Regions from separate parts of the Homo sapiens genome. Here all the other regions are linked to region 2. The links come from fine-mapping of genetic effects on gene expression. A gene starts in region 2. Each other region holds a variant in brackets. All regions are shown on one strand. Distances are from middle to middle.

Evidence for each region. PIP is the estimated chance that this variant, and not a neighbour inherited with it, causes the effect. A credible set is the group of variants that fine-mapping cannot tell apart.
Region 1: its variant is the best candidate, but not a certain one, in a credible set for the expression of CCDC92 in lung (TOPMed, PIP 0.50).
Region 3: its variant is the best candidate, but not a certain one, in a credible set for the expression of CCDC92 in monocytes after Pam3CSK4 (Quach 2016, PIP 0.73).
Region 4: its variant is the best candidate, but not a certain one, in a credible set for the expression of CCDC92 in lung (TOPMed, PIP 0.77).
Region 5: its variant is the best candidate, but not a certain one, in a credible set for the expression of CCDC92 in lung (GTEx, PIP 0.60).

The regions. Positions count from the first base shown.
Region 1 is chr12:124,013,909-124,019,076 of GRCh38, reverse strand. The region is part of intron 2 of ZNF664-RFLNA (ZNF664-RFLNA readthrough); the gene reads right to left. ZNF664 (zinc finger protein 664) reads right to left here. Exons shown (of 5, transcript NM_152437.3): 5 at 3,650-5,168. Among named protein-coding and RNA genes, the nearest start is that of ZNF664-RFLNA, 43 kb to the right of the region's middle. The variant TTC/C (reference allele first, on the strand shown) is at 2,900.
Region 2 is chr12:123,970,021-123,975,188 of GRCh38, reverse strand. CCDC92 (coiled-coil domain containing 92) reads left to right here and starts at 2,358. Exons shown (of 5, transcript NM_025140.3): 1 at 2,358-2,660. ZNF664-RFLNA (ZNF664-RFLNA readthrough) reads right to left here and starts at 1,974. Exons shown (of 5, transcript NM_001347902.2): 1 at 1,886-1,974; 2 at 1,169-1,303. It overlaps ZNF664 (zinc finger protein 664), which reads right to left and starts at 1,974. Exons shown (of 5, transcript NM_152437.3): 1 at 1,837-1,974; 2 at 1,169-1,303. RefSeq lists silencers at 1,406-1,635, 1,746-1,825, 1,896-2,765, 2,796-2,915 and enhancers at 2,136-2,873, 2,874-3,611.
Region 3 is chr12:124,026,942-124,032,109 of GRCh38, reverse strand. The region is part of intron 2 of ZNF664-RFLNA (ZNF664-RFLNA readthrough); the gene reads right to left. Among named protein-coding and RNA genes, the nearest start is that of ZNF664-RFLNA, 56 kb to the right of the region's middle. The variant A/T (reference allele first, on the strand shown) is at 2,304.
Region 4 is chr12:123,902,819-123,907,818 of GRCh38, reverse strand. DNAH10 (dynein axonemal heavy chain 10) reads right to left here. Exons shown (of 79, transcript NM_001372106.1): 57 at 4,706-4,880. Among named protein-coding and RNA genes, the nearest start is that of DNAH10OS, 30 kb to the left of the region's middle. The variant T/G (reference allele first, on the strand shown) is at 2,545.
Region 5 is chr12:123,843,552-123,848,551 of GRCh38, reverse strand. DNAH10 (dynein axonemal heavy chain 10) reads right to left here. Exons shown (of 79, transcript NM_001372106.1): 31 at 2,683-2,952; 32 at 2,398-2,581; 33 at 457-591. Among named protein-coding and RNA genes, the nearest start is that of DNAH10, 84 kb to the right of the region's middle. The variant C/T (reference allele first, on the strand shown) is at 2,659.

The sequences.
Region 1 (5,168 bases), 44 kb before region 2:
TGCTTTCTTTTAGCATTTCCTGATCTTTTTCAACCCCTTCACTGTCAGCCTTTTGGGTCACCCCTTTATTTTAGGTGGTCTCCCATAACCATCATATACACGTTTGTGACGTCATTTACAAATCAACTTGAAAATGTCCCTAAGTAGCTGAATTTAACCAGTTCACATTTACTATGATTAACAATATGCTTCAACTTACTCCTGCCATCTTATCCTTTCCTGTTTTTTTAATTTCTTCTCCTAATGTTTACTGGATCAAGTGAGGCAAGCAAAACACAGAGGATTCAGTTCTTTCCAGACACTGCCTGTTTCAACTATAACAATGTGGCAACAACAGCTCCAGGAAGTAGGGCTTGCTGCTCTACCAGACTCTCCCGTCATCCTCCACAGACTGTAGAAACAGGACTTACCCTTGAGACTAAGTCCCTGTGGGTCTTGACCTTATCTCAGAAAGGGGAGCGGGGGGCACACAAGGATGGAAGAGTATCAGGGGTAAAAAAAAAAAAAAAAAAAAAAGACATTTTGGGGACAGACAGGATGAAGACTAAAGAGGACTGACTTAAACAGTCAGAGATCCCAGGCAAGTGAGGTAGGACATAAAAATTAGACATGAGAGAACATGGCATTGAGCAATATGAATAGGTCTATTTGAGAACCTAAATACAACCCACACCAGTACTGGGGCCCTCACCCATTTTACAGCAAGAACTGCCTCCTCTGTAACCAAGACAGATTCAGTTGAGATCTAGTGTTTTCCATTCAGGTAGCCAATTCCGTCCACGTCCAGCCAGTCCCCTCTGAATACTCAATTGTCCTCACCTATATTCTTTTAATACACTGTTCGCAGAACTGTTGTCTTAAGCGTATGACATCGAAACTGCCACACAGCCTACCTCCTGGGCCCAGCATAACAACACATGCACATGTATCCTTCCATTTTATGCCAACGTCCTTTTCCCTCTTTCCTCACAACACAGCGTTGTGTTTTTTCCTCCGTTTATTATACCCATCATTTCCTATCCATTCCACTAACTGGAACTCTTAGGCACCCCTTTTGCCTCCCAAGATCCCCAAACAACGAGTAACCATATGCCAGCCAGTGTTCTTTATCTCTTAGAGTCACAAACATAAGGAAAGCCCCCTTTCCTAGAAAAATGCATAGACCTACAGGTACACAAAATTCTGCACATAACTTAAAAAGGTTCTAGACCTCCCCAAAAGCCGTCTGCAGGTCTTAGGTTTTAAAATTCTGTAAATACAACACCCCCACCATAATTCATGATGCAGAGAAGACCTGGATCAGGGCCAGCAAAGAATTAAGAGGGGGAGGGAAAGTCGGTCTCTCAGCGAAGCCATATTTAGACACAGTATTTAGGAAGGTACAGAGTCTATAAAATGCATACATCCGCCTAAAAATACACAAAATCTGTATGTGCTACTTTACTCTAGAAATGCAGTTTATTTACATATGCCTAAATCTGAGCAATAAAATTGCTTTGGTATAAAGTGTCATTTTCCACCGATATTTATGACAAGTTCTTACTGGCATAAACACACACACAGCCTTGGGATCTCTGGATTTGTTCATGTGTTTTGTAATATGTTAAAATGAGAATGATAAAAAAAATTCTTAAGTTTCAACTTACTTATGATTATAAAGTTATTCTACTTCATGTACATTGAGAGTGGAAATAAAGATATCCCAGGCCTCCCTGCCCCTTAGGGGTTTGGGTAAACTTGACTCAAAACTCCATTAATTCCATGGCCTGTAGCAGCTTTTAGCTACCCTGAAGATTTCTGCATATTCTGCATATTCCTTGGAGCTTGTTCTCAGGGGCACCCTCTTCTGGCTCCTATATTTATGTGTGGTACTTACGTGTTGCCCCATTTCACCCTGGATACAGCACTCAGCCCTTCCACCAGTTTCCATAAGAAATCCACCATGCCAAACACCCCTAACTTTAGGGAAAGACTTTGTGGTCACGAAGTTTTCCTACACAAGAGCTCAGAACTTCAGACCATCCTACTCCACTGGTTCCCTGGTCCTCTCTCCCACTCCAAGTCTACCCTTTGTTTTCTTACCTCCAACTACCCCAGGAGATTCAAGTTCTCTCTCTTACCATGTGGAGCAATTCAGCCCTCTCCAGGTCCTACCCCAATTTTAGATGTCCAAACCCACCACAGAGCTCAGCAAAACAAAAAGGAATCCAAATAACATGACCTTTCTTCCTTAATAGGCAACTGGGAATAGGAATTCGTTATAGCACTAAATGCTAGGCACTTTACGTTTATTTACTTCTCCCAACATTTCCATGAATTAGATATTTTCAAAACCATTTTAAAGATGAGAAACTTGAGGTTTAGAAAAATTAAGAAAATGAATATGGTTAGAGGAAGTGCTCTATCATCTTCATTTTTCCTCTCTTCCTCTCTAATCCATAGATCTTAACTCAGCTTTGCTATTTATATATGGCTCTTGCCCTGTAGTAGTATCAACCTTTCTCATCTTTTCCTAGATTTTACCACTGAGTATATTTTCCATCTGCTTCTGATATTTGCTTTCCATTCACCTAGTTTTTCAAATTTCTGAGAATATCAGTACATTACAAAGACTGAGAAATAATTCAAAAATTTTAAGAACAGAGCCAAGAGCTAGAAGGTCCCTTGGAAGGAATCATGTCCATGCTCACACAACACAAAGTAATCCCTCTTCAATTTCTGAGATGGCCTGACGAGCTGTGCCCACATTCTCACGCAGTAGACTATCTCAATGTTGGACTCTGATGCAAAGAGTTCTTCCTATCTGCAAGAGGCAATCTGCCGTTTATTCATGCTTCCAAGTTAGAAACCATGCAGTCATTCTGGACTTATCTTGGCTCACACTCTAAATCCTAGCAGA[TTC/C]ACCAAGAGTGAATCCCATCACAGATGACCTACCCTTGCCCCCACCCCCCACCCCCATCAGAAGGGCTAGTTTGGGTTGCTCCCATCCCAATGGTGGAATTGCAATGCAGACTTGTCTCTCAAAGCTGGTAGACGCCACAGCCAGTCAGACTGTTGACTGCGGCACAGAACGTGGGCCCCCTCTGCTTCAGCTGACAGCACTTCACGCCTTCCCAGGCATGGGCTGCAGTCAGCAGGGGCCAGGGCAGGGCTTGGAGGAACTGCCAAGGGGCACCAGGAAGATCACAGAAAGCACCAAAATGGATCACCCAAGGAAAAGGAATTAGCTGCCAACATTTTAAGATTAAACTGTGTGTGAAAATCGAGGTTGGTGTTTTCTTAGAAGAGCTGTGGGCCTGTATTCGCCGTGAACACAGAGCCACAGCCGAGCTGAGGCAGTCCTCTCAGTGGACTGTGCTCTCTCCAGATGGATTATTCCTGACTTGAGTCATTTATTACCTGTGTGGCTGTGACCTCAGACCAAGGTGTCCTCACACCTTAGTGTGCCCGAGAAAGGCCCATTCGAGGCTTGTTGTCCAGATGTGAGTATCAACAGCACCCCCTCCCTTCACTCTCAAGTGCTCAGTTTGGACAATAAATTACATGGTCACCCTGGGCTTAATGTGCAAGCCAATTCTCCACCACACACCCATACCCATACTCCCACACACGACCACTGAATTCACACAACTACATGTCAAGCACAGAACCCTGTTATAAAGCGATTTTATTAAATTGATTTGGACATACTGTAGGTCAAATAATATTTTCTGAAGATAACAATTATGGACTTTAAAGCTCGACATAAAATTAGTAGCTTCAAAAGGGTTAGTCATATTCCCCAGCAACAGCATGATAAAATAATTCAACTATGTAGAAATATAGAACTCTAGGACTAGCTGGAAACTCGGAAATCATTTAGCCTAATGTTCTCATTTTGAGAGAAAACTAGACTCAAAGATTAAGCGATTTGCCCAAGCTCACATACCTAATAGTAATAAAGCTAGAAATCAAACCAATTTTTCCTAAAACTAAAATTCTATCAATGATATTTCAACTGGCTATCAACTAAAAGTCTAGGCTTTTCTCTAATGCTCCACGCTATTGTGACATGAAAGAGTGATAAGACACTACAGTAAATCGTACTTGTGGAATTCAGGCCTGGAAGGGGCTTTGGCAAATAACTAAGCCAGCCCTCTCTTTGTAAAAAGGAGGAAAAGTATCTGAAGTGACTTACCAAAGGCTTGTTAGCAGAGATGTCTGGATTAAAATCCAGATATTGACAAATTCACCCCCAAATCCCATCTCTAGTTTCATGGCCCACCCACTAAATCATGTGCTCCTTTTAAATCTCCTTTATGCGCTGAGGTTTTAGTTATACAAAAACCCCTTCCAGTCAAACAGAAAAAATTAATTCAAATATGGAAAGAAAAATCAAACTTTCAGTATTTTCGTGACTATCTTGAGTAGTTCATTTTCCAACCTCTTAGACAGCTGACAGACACCACTAACCTGATCACCTATTTCAGAGCTTCAAAGATCCTTAATTTCCCCAAAGACTTCCTGAGCAAAAGGACTACATGTGGGAAATCAATGAAAACAGGAATGAGAAGAGAAAGTTAAAAATTGGTTGCTTTTGTTCCTGTCATTGGGGACTTTTGGTCTTCTAAACATTCCTTGAGTTCCTCCACATGAGTTTTTAATATCAATCTAGCAAAAATTAAAACAAACAAAAAAAGGCCTCTGAAAGTCAGGATACTGACCACCTCGGCATCTCTCCCCTTCCCCACTGCTTGCGAATGCCAGTGCTGGCCTGTTCCTTAAACGCACCAGCTCATCCCCCAGAGCAGCCTGTGTGCTCTGCCAGCGACTGCTACTTCTCCTCCGGCCTCAGCTCAACATCCCACCGCGGAAAGGCCTCCCTGACCACTAGCTAATGTCACCCCACCCCCACCCCACCCCACCACTAAAATCATCACCCTAGTTTATTTTCTTCATAGCACTTAATCACTATCTCAAACTACATTATTTATTTGTTTACTTATCATCTGTCTCCTCCACCAGAAGTAAACTCCACAAGAGTAGGGACCTTGTCTGTCTCATCAGTGGTATTCCCAGCACCTAGCACAGTGCCTGGCATATAGGAGGTGTTCAATACATATTTGTTGAATGAAGAAAAGAATGATGGATTAATAAAGACGTTCATGCCTAACAAAGAACTGATACAC
Region 2 (5,168 bases):
TATATATACTACTTTACATTCCACAACACATACGCACTGTATCACTGAACTCTATGGAGCAGACAGAGCAGGCCATTTACAGAAAAGAAAACCGAGGTTTGGTGTGATTCAATGTCCTCCCCAAGGTCACACAACTTCTAACTGCTAGAGTCAGAACTACCATAGGGGAGGGGTGGCTGCTTCCACATATCAATTTCTTAACCAAAAGAGAACTTCATCATAAATGCCGAATCTCGATAATTAGCGTAGATCTGTGCTCCTATCACCGAAATTTCATCTCATCAGAGAACCACCACCAGCAAAAAAGCTGTTTTAAAGTTAAAACTTAAACTGCTATCAATTTGGGAAATGGCTAAACCATGATATACTGAAACTATGGAACATGGTGCAGCAGTTGTTAAAAAATGACTTGAAGCATTACATGCTAACATTGAAAGTTACGGTGCAACAGTCCTTGTTAAAGCAGTCAAAAATGATGTTAAGTGCACACACGTAAAAGTACTCCAAAAGATCTAGAAGGATAAACACCACACACATAATAGTCGGCATCCCTGAAGACAGAGGTTGATAGTCAAAGACAAAATGCCATCTCTGTGATATGCTGTTTTTACAAAGAAAATGTACTACTCTGCTAATTTAGAATTAATTTTTAAATTTTTAATTAACCTGCGGGTTGAACAAGGTCAATTTCCTGCTCTAAAAAACTATGCGTCTATGAAGGAAATAGGAGCCCTCTCTAAATAAGAAGCCAAAATGCCTAAAAACCGTTCCAGCCTGTGAAAACAATAAACTGTAAATATCAGAAAACGTTCCTTGAAGAAGGCAATAGCTCAGAAATCTTTTTTCGGTATCTGGTCTCCTTTGTTGCAATAAGACAGCCCGTAAGCAATCTAGCAACCAGAACAGTTCAGTTCGGAGCAGGCTCCCGGGGAGATTTAGTTGTTAGAGTTCGGCAAGAAAGGTTTCACAAAGGAGCTGAGTTCTGGGGGAAATGAGAGGTGATGTGGCGGAGAGATGGATCCGGACGGGAAAATGTCTGGGAGGGGGTATACGGAGTTCATGAGAAGCCGGGGACAGTGAGAAAACTGCAGTCGAGTCCTGGAAGGGGTGAGAACGCCTGCGGAGGCGGGAGTCAGAGGGAAGTGGACAGCGCCGGCAGCCGGTTTACCTGGGTGAGAATCCGGCCCTTGTTGTGGTCAAACAATGGAGGCGTCCGGCGGCAGCAGCCTTCTGCGCTGGGTGCGCGAGGGGTTCCTCATCACCTGAGCGGGATGCTCGCCTCCTCTGCCGGACGCAGGGCGCCCTGAAAAACACACAGCACCCCATGCAGCCGGCTCCTCCGCAGCCGCCCGGCTCCCCGGTCCCCTGGCGCGGCCATGACCGCCTCTCCCGGGACCCGCCTGGAAGGGCTCCAAGACGCGGCTCCACGGGCGACGAGGGCGGCAGCGCTCCCCCTTCCCTCGGCTCCAACAACAATGGAGCCTGGCTCGGGAGTCCGGCTCCCGAGGGGCCTCGCCCGGCCTCGCCCTGCCCGCTGCCCAGCCCTCGCTCGCACCGGCCGCCATCTGCGCCCCCCGGCCCCGCTCCCCCGCACTGCGGGCCCGCGGCCGACCGCCCGAGGCCCGAGGGGCGGCTTCTCAGCCCGGGACCCGCCAGGCTGCGCGGAGCCGCTCTGACCTTCCCCGCCATCCCGAGGCCCATCCTCCGGGATGGGTTGTTTTTCTTTTCTTTAAGCCACTCCACCTCCTTCCCACCCCCAGCCCGCTCCCTGGCCCCCGGCCCCCGCCTCCCTCCGGGAAAGAAAGAAAGACTGCAGCCCGGCCGCCGAGAACTCACTCCAAGTGAGGGGAGTCAGCGCCCCAGGCCGCGGGCGCCGCGCACCCACCTCCCTCTCCTCAGGGACACCTCACAGGTGCGCCTCCGAGCCGCGCGCGCGCGCGCTCCGCACACCCAGACGCCTCCGGGGGACAGCGCGCGTGCGCACGCACGAGGCCGGGGAAGCCCCGGGGGAGCGGGGGCCGCACGCATGCGCGGCCACCCGGCCCGCGCCCCCACCGCCCGCCTCCGCCCCCGCCCCCCAGCCCCGGCCCGGTCGGGCCCGGCCATCCCCCACCCCAGCGCCCGGCGCGCGCGCTCCCGCTCGCCTCCCTCGCTCCTCCCCGCGCCCCCCCCTCCCTCGGGCCGCGTTACCCAGGGCAACCGCAGTGCGGCCGCACCTGAGCTGTGCGCCTGCGTCCCGCGGGCCCGACCCTCCCTTCCCCTCGGCCTTCGCCCCTGCCCCGCCACAGCCGGGCGGAAGGGGGCGTAGCCCCGCCTCGCCAAGTGAATATCGGCCCGCCGCCCCCGCCCAGCCCGGCAGACACAGGCCCGCCGCCGCGCCGGCGCCTAGCCCGCCGGGTCAGCGCGGCCAGGCCTCGCCGCCGGCCCCGCTCCCAGGGTGCACCGCGGCTAGCGCTGGGGTGGGAGCGGGCGAGATGCGCCGGGCGGGCGGTGCCCACTGACCTCCCTCGGCGGCCCGGCCCGGGCAGCGCCCGAGCCCAGGCAGCCCCGCCCGCCGCGCCCCGCCCAGCCCATGGGCCACGGGCCCCCACCGCCGCCCGCCGGGAGGACCGAGCCTAAGAGGGCAGCCGCCTGAAGGAACGCGACGGCGGCGCCCGCAGGTGAGGCGGGGCCCGGGGTGTGTCGAGTCCGGCCCCGCTCACCTGGCAGCGCCGGCGGGGGCGGAGGGGCCGGGCAGGGGCGGAGGGGCCGGGCAGGGACGGGAGTTCGTGGCGAAGACTTTAAAAACCCTCCCCGCCGGGAGACGGGGGACGGGGTCCTCCTGCCCCACCTCCGGGGCTTGGGAGCCACGTTAGCTCCCCCAGGGGCAGGGGTGGCCCCGGGCGAAGGCAACTCGGGAGACGGCGGAGTCGGGGAAAGAGGGTCCCTGAGGCTCGGCGACCCCCGCGCCCGCCCCCGCGGGGTCTGCCGGCCCTTTCTGGGGAGGGGGCTCCCCGGCCCGGGCTCCAGTCCAGGGTGCGGACCGGCCGCGGCGCGCGCCCACCCCAGTGCCAAGGGGGAGGAGAGGCCGGTCCCGGGGCGCTCCTGTCTGCCCCGGGGTGGGATCGCAGGGCGAGGGATCCGCATTGCAGGTGCACCAGGAGCGCCCCGGGGCCTAGCCCGGCTTTGTCTGGGATGCTGTGGGGAGGAGGCCGTCTGAATCCACATCGCCTTTTTAAATGCTTGTTACCACCCGGGGAACCTTAGAGACCCTCCCTGACAAGTTGTATCGCCTCCCGTCCTGGTAGCCTTTCCGTAAGTACACTACCTTGCCAGCCCCTTCCTGAAGCTTTGATGCGGCTTTAGTTTACTCTGAGTAACGATTTGCCTGTGATTCGTGAAACGGAGCAGAATGCACAAACGCAGCAGAGCTCCAGGCTTGGCTACTGGGCTGCCGTCTGCTACGGCGAGTGAGTTTCTCTAACTTAGGTTTTCATGCTGACCTGTATTGTTTCATTTCAAGTTTTGGTATTTAGCAGTACGATCTAGTCCACTAAGGAAAATTAGGCTGCCAGAGAGAAAATATAACCGCGCTCTGTAGCTTAGGTTGCAGTAGTCGGTTTTATAACAAAATGCAAGCTACCACGCTGTAATACTTTAACATATTACGCAGTTCCAGAAACCTGTAAGAGTATTAAAACTAGGATTGCCATTTTAAAACTTTTACGTTTGAAATTTATTTAAAGAGCATTGGTATTGATAAAACGACTTTTCTTTTTTTTTTTTTTTGCTCATCAAGAATTCCCATGCATTTTCTCGCTATTGCATTGTAAGGAAAAAGATGCTAACGTTTAAAGTGGCTTTTACCTCCAAAGATGTTTTGAAATGTATGTAATTCTTTTGGCTAACTGTTCATCTTATGTGAAATATGCTTGGAAGAAGGCTTTAAAACTCGTGATTATATATACGGGTATGCGTACATATCCATACACACCACTGAAAAATCTTAAAATAGTTTTGTTACTCCTCTGCGTATTATAATTACTCAGTAAATTTAGTTTAGGTACATTTAAGATCTAAAGTACAGGACAATTATTTGTGTGAGATTTTTACTGTGACACATTTTAAATACATCGGTCTAACAAATAGGGTTTTTTTGAAATTAGATATTTTTATTAACTCTTTAAAAAACGAATCATTCATCTTGGGTTTATAACTCTTTCATCTGCCATGTTGGATAAATTGCAAAATTGGATAAATTGATCTCAACTTATCCAATTATCTTTGGATAAATTGATCTCAACATAATTACCTAATTGGTAGGATGCCTTTGCAACGATACTAACGTTAATAAAATGTTGATGCTTTTAAAAAATACTTATGTTAAAAAAGCATTTTCTCGTATTTCTGGCAAGAAAAGTCATGGAACTTTTTTCCTTCTATCTGGAACAAGGTCAGCCATAAATAGTTTCTAATACATAGTGGGCACACATTTGGTAACTAAGATTAATTATATCTACTGAATTTACTGAATTCCATGTCCTTCAAGGGCAGTGACTAGGTGACTTTGTATCTTCACACACCAATGTTGCAGTAAATGTTTGAGTCAGATTGAAGTTTCATCCCGGCTAGGTAGGTGCTAACTTAATGACACCAGTTTCCACATCTTCAGCTTTGATGTTTCAACCTGCAGAAGGATTTGGGCACGGAAGTGGCTGTGTCCTAATTGTCTTCAAATATTTGAAGGTCTGTCATGCAGCAAGGGATTTCATTTATTTTGAGTAATTATTGAGTACAGAAAAACAGATTTCACTTCTATATGAAGGCAAAAGTTGTTTATGGTGAGAACTAGCGGTGGAAAGAAGGGGCTGCTCCTTCCCTAGGGGCTTTTGGGATCAGCTGGTTCCCCACTTGGCGTGAATGGCTATTAGGAGGTATCACAGAGGTATAGGAGGGTCTTTCTGAGAGGGACTCCTGGGTATTCCGATGGCAACTATATTCGAGGACTTCTGTACTTCCCTTTTAGCACTGTGGCTTTTGTTTTTTGTTTTCTTATGCTGGCTTCTAGAGTTGTGGACGTAGCAACATCCGCAGACACCTACATGAACCCTAGGAAGATTTTTTAGTAGATTAAAGACCCACCTGCTATCGAAGATGATTCTTAGTCGTGCTTTGCATTTGTATGGCAC
Region 3 (5,168 bases), 57 kb before region 2:
ATGTTGTGTTCTTTAAAAATACCCACAATAGGCCGGGTGCAGTGGCTCACGCCTGTAATCCCAGCACTTTGGGAGGACGAGGCGGCGGATCACGAGGTCAGGAGATCGAGGCAATCCTGGCTAACACGGTGAAACCCTGTCTCTATTAAAAATACAAAAAATTAGCCAGGCATGGTGGCGGGTGCCTGTAGTCCCAGCTACTCGGGAGGCTGAGGCAGAACTGCTTGAACCCGGGAGGCGGAGCTTGCAGTGAGCCGAGATCGCGCCACTGCACTCCAGCCTGGGCAACAGAGTGAGACTCCGTCTCAAAAAAAAAAAAAAAAACCACAATAGCAAAGACATGGAATCTACCCAAAGGTCCCTCAAAGATAGACTGGATAAAGAAAACGTGGTACATATATACACCATGGAATACTATGCAGCCATAAAATGGAACAAGTTCATGTCCTTTGCAGGGACATGGATGGAGCTAGAAACCATTGTCCTCAGCAAACTAACACAGGAACAGAAAACCAAACACTGCACCTTCTCACTTATAAGTGGGAGCTGAGCAATGAGAACATACGGACACAGGGAGGGGAACAACACACACTGGGGCCTATTGGTGGGGACAGGGCAGGGAGAGCATCAGGAAGAATAGCTAATGCATGCTGTGCTTAATACCTAGGAGACAGGTTGATAGGTGTGGCTAATCACCATGGCACACATTTACCTATGTAACAAACCTGCACATCCTGCACATGTACCCCGGAACTTAAAAAAAATACCCCAAACAAATGATACAAAGAACATAAGCTCTTGAGTATATGAATAACACTCAACCACCCACGAGTGAATCAGCAACTTCTATTCCGCACGAAGGAAAACAAAAATGAACCCCAGGTTGGCTTTTTTCCATTTGATTATTGGTTCTTTCTCAACCACCTATGTAACTTAAATTTACTTAATATAAAGTCAATTATATAATTCAAAACTAAATCATGAAGCCAAATAAAGTATAATTAATTCCAAAGCCACGTGTCTATTTTATTATTCCCTGCTCATGGGGATTATCCAAGTCATCGCATCTACCATCCCTCTGCGTATTAAATTTGTATATTAAAACTGTGTCAATATTCAGAGGCAATTATCAAGAGGGACTAGAGAACTTGGAGGGGCTTGTAAACTGTTCTGTGCATTTTGTCTGAGAGTGTCAGAAAAAGAAAAGAGATCCTGGCCGATACCGAAGTGCTGAAGAAAACCACAAGTCGTTTGACTGCAAGCTCCCTGATGACAAAGGCCTCTGAGCCTGCAGGAATTCCCTGCATGGAGCCTGTGAGGCTGACAACAATTGATATTTCCCAGGCATCTTGCAGCCCGAGGATCTCTCGGGGATCTTGATTAGGACTTTGTTGGGACAGACACACGCTAGAAGGAGATGAGTCACGTGCTTTCCTGTCGCTCTGCCTCGGGGAGGTCAAATGAGCTGGCCAGTGTGAAGCCAGGGCACTGGGGAATTGGATGAAGACCCCAAAATGCTGACTCTCCTACCCGGACTTTTTGTGACATGAGATCAGCTAGTTAACGCCTAAGATTCTGTAACCTGAGATGAGATCGTATGAGTTTTGCTGTCTTTTTTTTCCTTTCCTCAAAATTACTGTTTGATACATATCATTTTTACTTACTCACGAGGGACAGAAATTTCCCCGGGGCTTGTCTAGTTTGATACCTTTGCTAACTAAATCTGTGGAGGTGGACGGTCAGTCTGCGCTCCCTTGAACCTGGATGAGAGGGGTCTCTGTCCTGGGCCCCGTGCTTTAGAGGGCCCCACTCACAGCCTCTCCAGGGTCAAGGGAATGTGCCAAACCGGAATGTTGCTTCTGTATCAGGCTCCAAATTTCCTGGCACTGGAGGTTCCTTCTGAAACAGCGCAGGCGTTCCTTCAGAGCCTGCACAAACCCGTTCTTCAGATGCAGCCTCCGAAGAGCAGGCTGCTGGTACCCACGGCCCTGCCCATGGGCCTGCAAGGGGGCAGCTATGGGGTGGTGTGGAGGGATGGCCAGAGCTCGAATCATGGGCTGGGTGTCCACACGTGTGGACTCCAGGAGGACTCGGGTGGGGCAGGAAGGGATGTGGAGCAAAAAGGGACACAGGCAGGTGGGACACATGCCAGCCCCTACTGCCCACCACAACCCAGGGGGAGCTCAGGAGTCCCCGCATCCCAAAGGCCAAAGCTTGGCCTTCCAGGTGGTTCTGAAGAGTTCATTGTCAGAACCGCTTTGTTAACTTGATTTGCTTTGCTAACTTGATTTATAACTTTTTTT[A/T]AAAAAAAGAGACAGGGTCTCACTCTGTCACCTAGGCTAGAGTGTGGTGGCGCAATCATAGCTCACTGCAGCCTTGAACCCCTGGGCTCAAGAGATCCTCCTGCCTCAGCCTCCCAAGTAGCTGGGACTACAGGTGTGTGCCACCATGCTCGGCTAATTTTTAATTTTGTAGAGATGGGGTCTCACTATGTTCCCCAGTCTGGTCTCCAACTCCTGGCCTCAAGCGATCTTCCTGCCTTGGCCTCCCAAAATGCTGAGATGGCAGGCATGAGCCACCATGCCTGCCTTGATTTATGACTTTTAAAGGTGGGTCTCCATTTGTACTCTTGCCCGGCCCCCCAACACATCAAGGGCAGGCCAGTGACACGTTAATGTGAAGTCATTACTTGCACGTCTCTGCGGGGTCTATTCCAAGATACAACCTGCAGATGAATGCACACACAGAAAATGTACAAACAATAAATAAATGAAAGAATAATTAAAAATATTATTTCTCCCTGGTAACCTGCTTCCGACAAATTTCAAAGAAACTGTTACATAGAGGCTGAGTGTGGTGGCTCACGCATGTAATCCCAGAACTTTGGGAGGCTGAGGCAGATGGATCACTTGAGGCCAGGGGTTTGAGACCAGCCTGAATATCGTGAAACCCTGTCTCTACTAATAATACAAAAATTAGCTGGGTGTAGTGGCACACGCCTGTGGTCCCAGCTGCTTGGGGGAGGCTGAGGCAGGAGAATGACTTGAACTGAGGAGGCAGAGGCTGCAGTGAGCCGAGATCATGCTACTGCACTCCAGCCTGGGTAACAGAGTGAGAATCATCTCAAAAAAAGAAAGGAAATTGTTACACAGACGCAGAAGGAGCATATGGAATTTGGCCACGCTGGGTGTTACTGGTTTCAACTAAATTCTCCCAAATCCCAAGGCAAACTTCCAGCAAAGCAAGGTGACTGGCGAGCTGATGGGGTCATTTGTAAAGAAATGCTGATGCTCTCAAATGTGTACAAGCACCAAGATGCCAGCTGAGAGGGCTCCAGGAAGTTGGCTAGCAAGGGCACGCCTCTTTCCCTCTGTTCATCTGATTGTCAAGAACTCACCGGTGCGCAGAAGAGTTGGCGATCCTCACAAGCCCCAGGCTTGTAGCTTGTGACTGTTTGCTTTCAGAGAAAGGGAACTAAAAGATGCTTTTTCCCCCTCCTGCTTTTGCTTGGCCCTGGCTCCCTGCAAAATCTACCTGAGCAGGTCTGGAGTCACCAGGGACCACCTCCCAGTGCCTTCAAACACGGGGCTCTTGGGCAGCACTCTGGGACCTCAGCGCTTCGCCTGCCGGCAAATGACCACCACACCGCTGCCAACCCACTGCTGCCACCACGCTTCCAGCTACAGCCAGGTCTGCCAGACCCTGCTCCCTCTGCCAGATGCAGGCTCAGCTGTTGTCACCTTCACTGGGACAGCCAGCTCTGACGGGCAGTGCCAGCCTTTCTGCAAGATCACAACACTTGGGACCACTGCCACTTCCTGGGGATAGTAATAATAACAGCTAAGATCTACTGAGCCCTTGCTCTGTGCCAGACACCAGCTGAGGACTTCACTTGCTTAAGCTCACTTCAGCCTCGCAGCCATCCGGAGATAAATACTGTCATTCGTCAGTACAATACTTTACAGATGAGGAAACTGAGGCTCAGAGAGGTAAAGACACTTGCTCAAGGTCACACAGCTAGATGTGGTGGAGGGACTTTGAGTCTGGGCTCACCACACTCTGCATCCAACCCTGCAGCACCTTGGGTGCTGCCACGCCCTCGGGCTCAGCTGCTGCTCCCAGTTGCCACCCCCAAGTCTGCCCGGCTCCCCTGGAGTCCCTGGCTCTCCCACACCGTGTGGCTTGGCTGCCTCTGGTGGAGCAGTGTCACTTTGGCCATGTCAATGCCAGCCTCCCCGAGGACCGCGTCTTCTTGGCACTTCTATCTCTAATGGATCTGTGACAGGGGAAGACTTATGACTATGTGATGTCCTTGTCGTCTTCTCCCTCAGACCCCAGCCACTGCCATCCTCCATGACCAGGCCCTTGTGGAGAGAGAGAAAGAGACAGACACAAAGACAGAGAAAGACAAAGAGACAGGGACACAGACAGACAGGGAGAGAGAGGGAGATAAAAAGAGGCAGAGACAGAGAGACAGATGAACAGAGACAATACAAAAACAGAGTGACAGAGACAGGTGGATGGAGGTAAGAGATGGAGAGGCAGACACAGGCCCGCAGGGCAGCAGGGAGGCCCTGACGATGGCTGCAGTCCTGCAAGCAGGAGGTGGTGGTGGCTCGGAAGAGGGTTTTAGCTCAGAAGATGGGAACAGATGCAGGGTGTATTCTGAGGACAGAATTGACAGGGCTTGCTGACAGATGTGAAAGGAAAAGGGAAATGAAGGAGGCTGCTGGGTGTGGGGCCTGGACACTCACTGCAGGGAGGCGTCATTCACTGCGACTGATAAGCAGTGTCACAGCCAGTTTTATGTGTCAGCTTGGCTTGGCATGGTTCTCAGATATTCGGTCAAACACCTGCCTAGATGTTGCTGTGGTATTTTTGGGATGCGATGAACACTGAAGTCAGTAGCCCCTGAGTGAAGCCAAAGACCTGCCAGGCTATGGGTGGGTCTCATCTAATCAGGTGAAGGCCGTGGGAGAAAAAGACTGAGGTTCCCCGGGAAGAGGGGATTCTGCCTTCAGAAAGCCTTCAGGCTGGAGTGGCAACATCCACCCTTCCCTGGGGCTCGGCTGCCAGCCTGCCCTGCAGATTTTAGACTTGCCAGCCTCCACAACTGCATGAGTCAGTTCCTTAAAATAACCTCCTGTCTATATAGAGAGAGACTATGT
Region 4 (5,000 bases), 67 kb after region 2:
GGCGGGGCTGTCAAGTGTCTTTAAAAGGTCCCTTCAGGGTGGATGGAAACCAGGCCCCGGCCACCGCTCTGTGAACAAGCAGGTGGGGAAAGAATGGGGCAGATGTTTTCAGATTCAAGACAGAAGGAGCCCAGGCCTGCGGCGGGGTCCTGAGCCCTTGGGCAAGTTAGGAACCAGCCAGGGCGTCAGTTTCCCCATCTGTGAAGTAGAGACGCAGAACTGGAACCTTCCAGTTCCCAAATCCTCTGAGTCTACCAAAGTGACGTTTTCTGCTGTTGGGTTGCAGGCCACGCTCTGGGATCTCACTTATCCAGAACATACCACTTTCCACAATGCCGGATGACCAAGGTGTGTGAAATGTGGAGGGTGCAAGTCAAGAGAAAGGGAGATGTCTGTTTAATTTGATTCCTTTCTTCTATCACAAAACAAACTCAGGAATGAGAAAGGGAGAATGATATGCTACCCTCCCTAGAGGAAAATAATCCTTATAAACCCCACTCCCCACCTCCCAGTACTCTACCCCTGACACACCAGCTGTCTCTGCTTTTTCTCCAGCCGAGCTCCTTGCAATCTCAGAGAAGGTGCCCCCTCCGCCCTCCATGACCATGACTAGGTCAGGTCCCAACATCCACTGTCAGAGCAGCAAGGACCTTTCCTTCCTAACCTAATCCTACATAATTTCCCCATGCACATGGGATTCCTATAGGAAAACAGAGTGTCAGCGCCACGCAGTGAAGACCCTGCCTGCCTCACTGCTGATGGGCCCCAGTGCCTGCTCAGGGCAGGGGTGGGGTGGGGGACAGACACCCACTGACTACTGAATGAATGAAAGGAAGAAAAGTGAAACTCAAGAGCCAGCAACAAAGGGAGGCTTTTATAGTTTTATAGTTAGAGAAACATCTACTTCTAATCTTCATGACTCTTCATCTTCCTGCCTTAACATTTAATGATTTCTACAAAGAGGATTGAGTATGATAAGAAGGAAGCGCTTTTTAAGGACTTAAAAGATTATAAAATTGTCAAGATGTAAGTGCCGGCTCATTGCGCTTAACATCCAAATGACCTGAGAAAAGCCAGATTTTACTCATCTGGAAAAACTCAAATTGGATCCAAACTCACACAGAACCCCAGGAAAAAAATCCTCAATAGATAAAAGATTTAAATATAAAAAATTAAAACATAAGAGTACCAAAAGAAATCATGGGGAAATTATTTTACAATCTTGCAGTGTGATCAGGCCTTTTAACTAGGACACAATATCCAAAAGCCACAAAATAGGTCGGGTGCGGTGGCTCATGCCTGTAATCCCAACACTTTGGGAGGCTGAGGTGGGTGGATCACCTGAGGTCAGGAGTTTGAGACCAGCTTGGCCAACATGGTGAAAGCCCATCTCTACTAAAAATACAAACATTAGCCGGGCATGGTGGTGGGTGTCTATAACCCCAGCTACTTGTGAGGCTGAGGCAGGAGAATCGTTTGAACCTGGAAGGCAGGGGTTGCAGTGAGCCGAGATCGCGCCACTGCACTCCAGCCTAGGTGACAGAATGAGACTCTGTCTCAAAAAATAAATTTAAAAAAAGCCACAAAGGCCGGGCGCAGTGGCTCACTCCTGTAATCCCAGCACTTTGGGAGGCCGAGGCGGGTGGATCACAAGGTCAGGAGATCGAGACCATCCTGGCTAACATGGTGAAACCCCATCTCCACTAAAAATACAAAAAAAAATTAGCCAGGCGTCGTGGCGGGCGTCTGGAGGTACTCAGGAGGCTGGAGCTACTCAGGAGGCTGAGGCAGGAGAATGGCGTGAACCCGGGAGGCGGAGGTTGCAGTGAGCCGAGATCGTGCCACTGCACTCCAGCCTGGGTGACTGAGCAAGACTCTGTCTCAAAAAAAAAAGCCACAAAATAAAATATTGCTAAAACCTGCCACATAAAAATAAACATAGATGGCAAAAACAAACACACACATAAACCTCATAAACAAAGTCAAATAGCCCATGACAAACCAGGAAAAGATTTGCAACTCACCTTATGGATAAAAAGCTGAGCTCCCCATTATATAAAAAGCCCCTGGAAATGGTTTTGAAATAAAAAGCAACAATAACCACGACCCAATAGATACGCAAACCAAGTTCACAGAAAAGGAAATACACATAACTCTTAGACACACTTTTCTCATAGGAAAAAAAAAAAAGGCCAGCTTCACTCACACTAAGAGAAATGCAAATTAAAACTACACAAGTACCACTCATCTACAAAATATGCAAAAATCCCAACATGTGATCGCGCCCCCTGTTGGTAAGTCTAGGAAAAAGCAGGTACTACTCGTTTGGATTGTTGGTGAGGATAAATAGGTTCCATCCCCACGGCGGGGATTAGGCAACAGCTATGAACACTATAAATGCCTACACCCTGGGACCCAGCAATTCCACTTCCAGAAATGTATCCTGCAGGTGGACTCGCCCACGTGCACAATGAACTATGGTCAGATTTATTCTTTGCCACGCTGTTTGTAAAGGCAAAAGACTGGAGACACAATCAATTTATT[T/G]AACAAACTCATCAGTAAGGCCTTGTTAAATAAATTACGGCACAGCCACACAATGGAATGTGAAGGAATGTTCTAAAATATCGGGGAAGTTCATCATACATCAACATGCAAAAGCTCTCCAAAATATACTGCTAAGCAGAAAAGATGCAGAAAGATATGCATAGGGTGTTATAATTTGTATATAAAAGAAGGAAAAAAGGATTTGCAGGCATCCCCTGCTCTCCAAACCCTCAGAACCTGAAGTCAGGAAGAGAAGAGACCCTTGTGTACCTGGTTGCCTTGGTCATGCATGAAAATCCTCAGGAAGTGTATATGAGAAATGATATACCCATACTACCTGTTGCAGTGTGGGAAGGTGACCACAGCTGATAGAGGACACAGTGGCCGTGGGCTTTTCCCAGCATACCTTTTGGATGCTGGAGCCATAATCACAGCTAATGCTTACATGGCTCTGACCATGTGCCCAGCCCAGTTCTTCACATATAGGCTCATATGATCCTCATGAAGACCCTGATGCAGCCGAGACAATTCTTATCCACATTTTACAAATGAAGAAACTGGAGCAAAGAGAGGTTAGATGACTTGCTAAACGTCACACAGCAAAGAGGCAGAGCCATGTATGAATGTGTAAAAATTATTCCTTTTGTACTTAGGCTTTCTCAGGGGTGAGCGGGGCACCTGTCTGCAATGCCTGTCTCACTGCAGGGGACACATGCCACGCCCTCTATTTGGCCCCATGGAAGCTCCCCCCCACTCCTCCACCTTGGATTGATGGAAGGGACTCACCGTTCCTTCTCTTCAAATAAATCCCCTTCAAAAATCCTTCCTAGTCTCTGCTTTCACGATGTTTTTATGCTGCTGACCTGGGAGCAGTGGCCCAAATCCTATCACCGGTAGCTAGAAATTTCCCTGGAGGATGTGTGTGCTGACCGTGTCTCCTACCCCTCCGCTGGGTGTGCACTTCCACTGTGTCCTGGTACCTCAGCCTAAACTTCCAACGCCTAGTGCTGAAGTTTTAATACATCGATCCTTATACCCTCCTTGACACCATCCTCAACACTGAACTAATGACTTCTTGCTGACCACAGCAGCACCTCCAAGTGACCTCCCAAGAATGAACCGGGAGGTCATTCTGTCCTGGAGTGAGCTGAATTCCATGCTCAAATTCACAAATGTTTCACCAATAAGAAAACAAGGGCACGGACTTGGACAAGGAGCGCTGCTCAGCCTTCACAGGCAGCACAGAGGCAGAGAAATAGGAAGCACAGGGAACATGCACCGCTCCAGCGGGAGCCCAGAATGGAAGCCCATTACTGACCCAGGAACGGAGCCTCTCGGCTGCGAGACCCGTGTGTGGGGCCAGGAAGACTGATCTCCTTCTGGATGAAGAGTGGGGAAGGAGAGAGCTGAGGCTCCCACGCCGAGGGGTCTGTGCGGGGCCAGGCAGCACAGGGGCAGAGGCAGTGGGCGGAGGCTGGCACCAGGACAGTGTTCCCTCCCAGGGCTTTACTCACAAGACTCAACTGACCATCAGAGCCCAGGAACAGTGCCCTGGGGAGGCCAAGCCATGCGAGGAGAAAGCTTGTTAGCCCACGCCACACCACGTTACCCTCGCTGACAGCAGATGAGCCCTCTGGTGTGGGGGACAGGGTCATCTTACAGATTGATTTGCAAGATGTATGGGGGCCTCAATAGTGACCTACTCTCACCCTCCTTGAAAGCTTCCTTGGCTGGAAATGGATTCAGGCATCGCCAGTCCGGCCGTGGTGTGCACACATCTCTGCAGAGCTGTTTTCAGCAGGGCTCAGCCCCATGGTGAGCATCCTGCCCCTGCTTAGGGCGGACACTTGCCCCCGCATGTTCCGTGAAGAGCACTGTTTTACCCCACTCCATCCTTCCCTTGGCCTGGGTTCAAGGTCAGCAGGCCCTGCTTCCTACTAGCTGGGGGATCTGGATGCCTGGGGCGCCCACCTCATCTCCCTGGGCCTCATTTTCCCCATCCGAAAATGAGGGCAACAACAGTCTCCACCATGGAGAGAGCCAGGCACAGTGGCAGCATGTGGCATCGGCTCCTTTGTAAGCTCCTGGTTGCCACGATCATGGAGACTACTGGCTTGCAGAGGTGGAATGGAAGCCCAGAATGGTGGCTCAGGTGCATTACCTAATCTCAGTCACGTCCGACTTGTCCAGCTTCTGCAGTTCCAGCTTGGCGGCCTCCAGGATGGGCATGACCTCTGCCAGGGTCGTCTCGGCCTCGGCCTTCTCCATGGCAATGACTTTGTTCTGCTCCTCTATCTCCATGGCCTTTTCCTCTGCCAGTTTCTTCTTCTCCTCGGCTGCAGGGTAGGACAGGGGGTGAGTAAAGCTTGGGCTCAGAGGAGATGCACTCGCGGCCCCGGCTCTGAGCAGAGTGCAGTCCTCAAAGGTTGGCTTGAGCCCTAGCGGGGATCTAAGGG
Region 5 (5,000 bases), 130 kb after region 2:
GGCTGGCTCCTACTTGGGATTTTACAAATCCAGATTTTTGTGTAAAACTCCATTTCTCTTCTCTTCTCTTGAAATGTGGGAAAATCTAGCAATGCTGGGTCCACTTTCCCAAATGGTGATTATGAACCAAAGCTGGACGGGCACCCTCTTTAGATGGACTTTTGCTCTCCAGTTAGCCACAGATCCCACCACTCTCTTGTCTGCTGGCCGCTTTACTCACGTACATTATCAACCTGACCCTACTAGGGTAGTGAATCCGGGACTCTTGCTCTACATCCTGCTAACAAAGCAGGGTCTTTAAGCAGACACACTTAGGTTCTGGGGCTGTGGTGGTGGAAGGTTTTCTACTAGCTTCTTCCACTGTCGCCATGTCAAAGACTAGGAGGTGAAATGCCATGTCCTGCTTTAAGCTCTCTGCCTAATGAGCCAGTACCAAAGGTGACAGCCAGGCCTTACCCTGTAATCCATGCCTTCGCCACAGTTGGTGACAACACAGAGCAAGCCCAAGGCTTTCGCCAGGTCCTTGGTGGTCTCGGTTTTGCCGGTTCCTGCTGGGCCGGCGGGGGCCCCACCTAGATACATGGACAGCGCCTGTTATAAGCCAAATGCAAAACATATGTTTTCTGGTGCACAGAAGGAAGTGGGTGTCATTTCCAAATTCATCACTGTGACTATAGGTGCAGAATAGAGAAAGAATGTGGTGTTTGCTTTCATGTGTCAACTTGACTGGGCCACAGGATGCCCAGGTAGCTGGCTAAACATTATTTCTGGGAGTGTCCATGAGTGTGTTTCAGGAAGAGATTAGCATTTGAGAAAAGCAGATGACCCTCCCCAAAGTGGGTGGGCCTCATCTAATCCATTAAAGACTGAACAGAACAGAAGGATGGAGGGAGGTTACATTGGTGCTGCCTGATCATCTAATCCATTGAAGACTGAACAGAACAGAAGGATGGAGGGAGGTTACACTGGTGCTGCCTGACTGACTGAGCCAGGGCACTGGGCTTCTACCCTTGGCACTTCGGGTTCTCAGGCCCTCAGACCCAGACACGAGTCTACACTATTGGCTCTCTCACTGTCAGAACTTCAAATGCTACTGGCCTTCCTGGTCCTCCAGCTTGCAGATGGCAGATTGTGAGAGTAATCAGACCCTATCATCACATGAGTCAATACCTCATAATAAATCTCCTCCTAAATATCCAGATAGATAGATAGATAGATAGATAGATAGATAGATAGATAGATAAAATAGATGATCGAGATGATAAATAGACAGGATGGATGGATGGATAGATAGATAGATAGATAGATAGATAGATAGATAGATAGATAGATAATAGGATGGATGGATGGATAGATACATGGATGGATGGATGGATGGATGGATGGATGGATGGATGGATGGATGGATATGTAGATGGATGGATGCACGGATGGATGGATAAGATAGATAGATTAGATAGATAGATAGATACACAGACAGACAGACAGCCATCCAGCTAGCTAGCTATGTCCTATTGGTTCTATTTCTCTGTGGAACCCTAACCAATACAGATAAGATGACACTCTTTTTCTCAAAAACAAAGGACTTTATCACTCACAGCACAGGAGGCAGCAGGGGCTTCCTGTTCTCACTCATTCCCTTTATCCTTGTCCCCCCAAATCCCATGGTGTGATGTGGAGACGGGCCCAGGTGCATGCCACATCCACAGTGGGTATGAGTCACAGCTGAGAAACTGTGAGCCTAAGAGACCACCAATGTAGCCAGGTGCAGCAGTGAATGCTATAGTCCTAGCTACTCAGGAGGCCAAGGTGGGAGGATCACTTGAGGCCAGGAGTTCAAGGCAAGCCTGGGCAACATATCAAGACCTCATCTCTAATTTAAAAAAAGAAAACTAGCAAGCATCTGACAAACAGTCTTGGGGGTTGCTTGCAAACCTTCCCAAGCTCTGCCTGGATGGAAGTGTTATCTTCATTTCCTGTACAACAAACAAGTTTACCCTCTGTCCTGGAGGGAGACACTATCTCTATCATCCAAGGCCGTTCACTTGAACGGATATATTCTGGAATAAAAGCTGTCACAAGACGTGCAAAACCACATCACACTTGCCCTAACAGTCACCACCTTTGACATTCCTGCATTTTCGCATTGGCCTCTACCAATACCCCTGACACACCATTACCTAGGGACCAGTGTACCAGTGGCTAAGCACGGCCACACTTACATGCCAATCCCAAATGGTGACAATCTGGTCACATCCCAAATGGAAAAGCTTTTCGAGATTTCAAAGCAATGATCTCCCCTGCTATTTCAATCACTGCAGTCATCACACCTCAAGCTTAGAGAAAATGCCCCGCCCCAAGGTAAGTGGTAACCACAAGTGCCAGGCTGGCAGTCACCTGGGTGAGCGTCAGGTAAATCCGATCGGTGAGGGGCGTGATGACCAGCCTGCCGTTCAGGCCCATGTACTCGTAGCCGTAGCCAAAGGTTCCCGTGCACTGGCGGATGTTCAGCTCATCCGGCTCCCGGTCCCAATAAAACCGCAACTGACTTTCCCAGTCAAACTCTCGGGCCTCCAGGATACTGGACGGCAAGAAAGGTGGAGGAAGTGGAAACCGTTGAGACAGATCAGCGGACCACAAAGGGTCCCTTTTGAAATG[C/T]CAGTGACCCCGGAAAATGCTCACCTGCCTCTTATGAAAGAATCAACTATGTCTCTGGCATGCACATCAATGATGAGAACAGTGTTGTATTTTTTCCTGTCGTTTTTGCTTAGCGGCATGGTGATGCGCGTTACCAACTCATCGATCTGCCGGTGCATTTTCCTGCCATAGTTCTTCATGGCCTGCTTCTCCCCTTTTTGCGCTTTGTGGAAGACGTCTTCCACCTCCCAGGTCCACCACACCTGGCTAGCGGCCAGCACCACCATGCCCTGGTACAGGAGCATCCAGTCGACTCTGCAGAAAACGCACACCTGTAAGAGGCTCTGATCAATCCGGGGACTGGTACCCAAAACAGTCCCTTCAGGAATTTATTTCTTTGATCTGGAATAGGGAGGGCAAAGTAAAGGTTTTAGGTAAGCAAGTGCCTGTATTTGTTTACCTAAGTAAGTCAGAGGAGTAAGACTTAGGTGAGAGTAAGATGTTACCTATCTCCGACTAGGTAGTAAAATTCCAGGCCGAGGGTGCCTCTCTCCACAAAAAATGTTGCAGGTACCTGACTGCACAGAAAGATGCCAGATCACTTTTTAAATGTTTGGGGCCAGTCGTGGTAGCTCACGCCTGTAAACCCAACACTTTGGGAGGCCAAGGAAGAGGATCACTTGAAGCCAGGAGTTCAAGACTAGCCTGGGCAACATAGCAAAACCCTATCTCTACAAAAAATAAATTAAAAACTAGCCAGGCATAATGACGCATGCCTGTAGTCCCAGCTACTCCAGGGGCGCTGGAGCCCAGGAGTTGGAGGCCGCAGCCAACTACAATTGTGCACTGTACTCCAACCTGAGTGACAGAGCAAGGCCCTGTCTCTAAAAAATAAAATAAAATAAAATATTTGATTATAGGTTTTCAAACTTACTTAGTATTTGAGGTTTATGTAAGAAGTAAAACAATATTCCAGGCTGGGCACGGTGGCTCACACCTGTAATCCCAGCATTATGGGAGGCCAAGCTGGGGCAGATTGCTTGAGCTCAGGAGTTTGAGACCAGCCTGGGCAACACAGCGAAACCTTGTCTCTACCAAAAATACAAAAATTAGCCAGATGTGGTGGTACATGCCTGTGGTCCCAGCTATTCAGGAGGCTGAGGTGGGAGGATTGCTTGAACCTAGGAACTCAAGGCTTCAGTGAGCCGAGCTCGCATCACTGTACTCCGGCCAGGGCAACAGAGCAAGACCCTGTCTCAAGAAAGAAAATTAAAATTCCAACAAAGAATTTCATAATCTCTGACCACACTGCCCAGGTTTGCAGGCCAGGTTGTAACACGCTTTTGAATTTTTGCCAGTCTGAAAAGTGAAACAAAACATCTCATCCTCCCTTAATGTACAGATCCTGCTGAGTCGTGGGGTTTCTCCTCTTTTCATGTTTATTGGCCACTTGGATGTCCTCTCCAGAGGCACTAACTTACAAAGCTTGTGATTGCCTTGAGACACATTTAGACAAAGCTTTTTTTCTAAACTGCACTTAAAAAATAATGGACTCAGAGCTGTAAATGCCTGATATGGTTTGGCTCTGTGTCCCCACCCACGTCTCGTCTCAAATTGTAATCCCCATAATCCCCAGGTGTTGAGGGAAGGACCTGGTGGGAGGTGACTGGATCATGGGGGCGGTTTCCCCATGCTGTTCTCGTGATACTGAGTGAGTTCTCATGAGATCTGACGGTTTTATAAGTGGTTGTTAGTTCCTCCTTCTCTCTCTCTCTTTCCCGCCACCTTGTGAAAAAGGTACTTGCTTTTCCTTTGTCTTCCGCCATGACTGTAAGTTTCCTGAGGCCTCCCCAGCCATGCGTGACTGTGAGTCAATTAAACCTTTTTCTTTATAAATTACCCAGTCTTGAGTATTTCTGTATAGCAGTGTGAAAACACAGTAATACAATGCCAATACTGGAAAAGTGACTGCGGATTACTATAGTCATTATCTTGATGACCTACAGTTAATGGCAAAATAAATTTAAAAGAGTAGGAGGCCGAATGCTTTGGCTCACGCCTGTAATCCCAGCGCTTTGGGAGGCCGAGGCCGGCAGATCACCTGAGGTCGGGAGTTCGAGACCAGCCTGGCCAACATGGCGAAACCCTGTCTCTACTAAAAATACAAAAGTTAGCCGGGTGTGGTGATGTGCACCTGTAATCCCAACTACTCAGAAGTCTAAGGCAGGAGAATCGCTTGAACCTGGAAGGCGGAGGTTGTAGTAAGCCGAGATAGCGCCATTGCACTCCAGCCTGGGTGACAGAGCGAGACTCTGTCTCAATAAATAAATAAATAAATAAATAAGTAGGAAAAGCAATAAAAA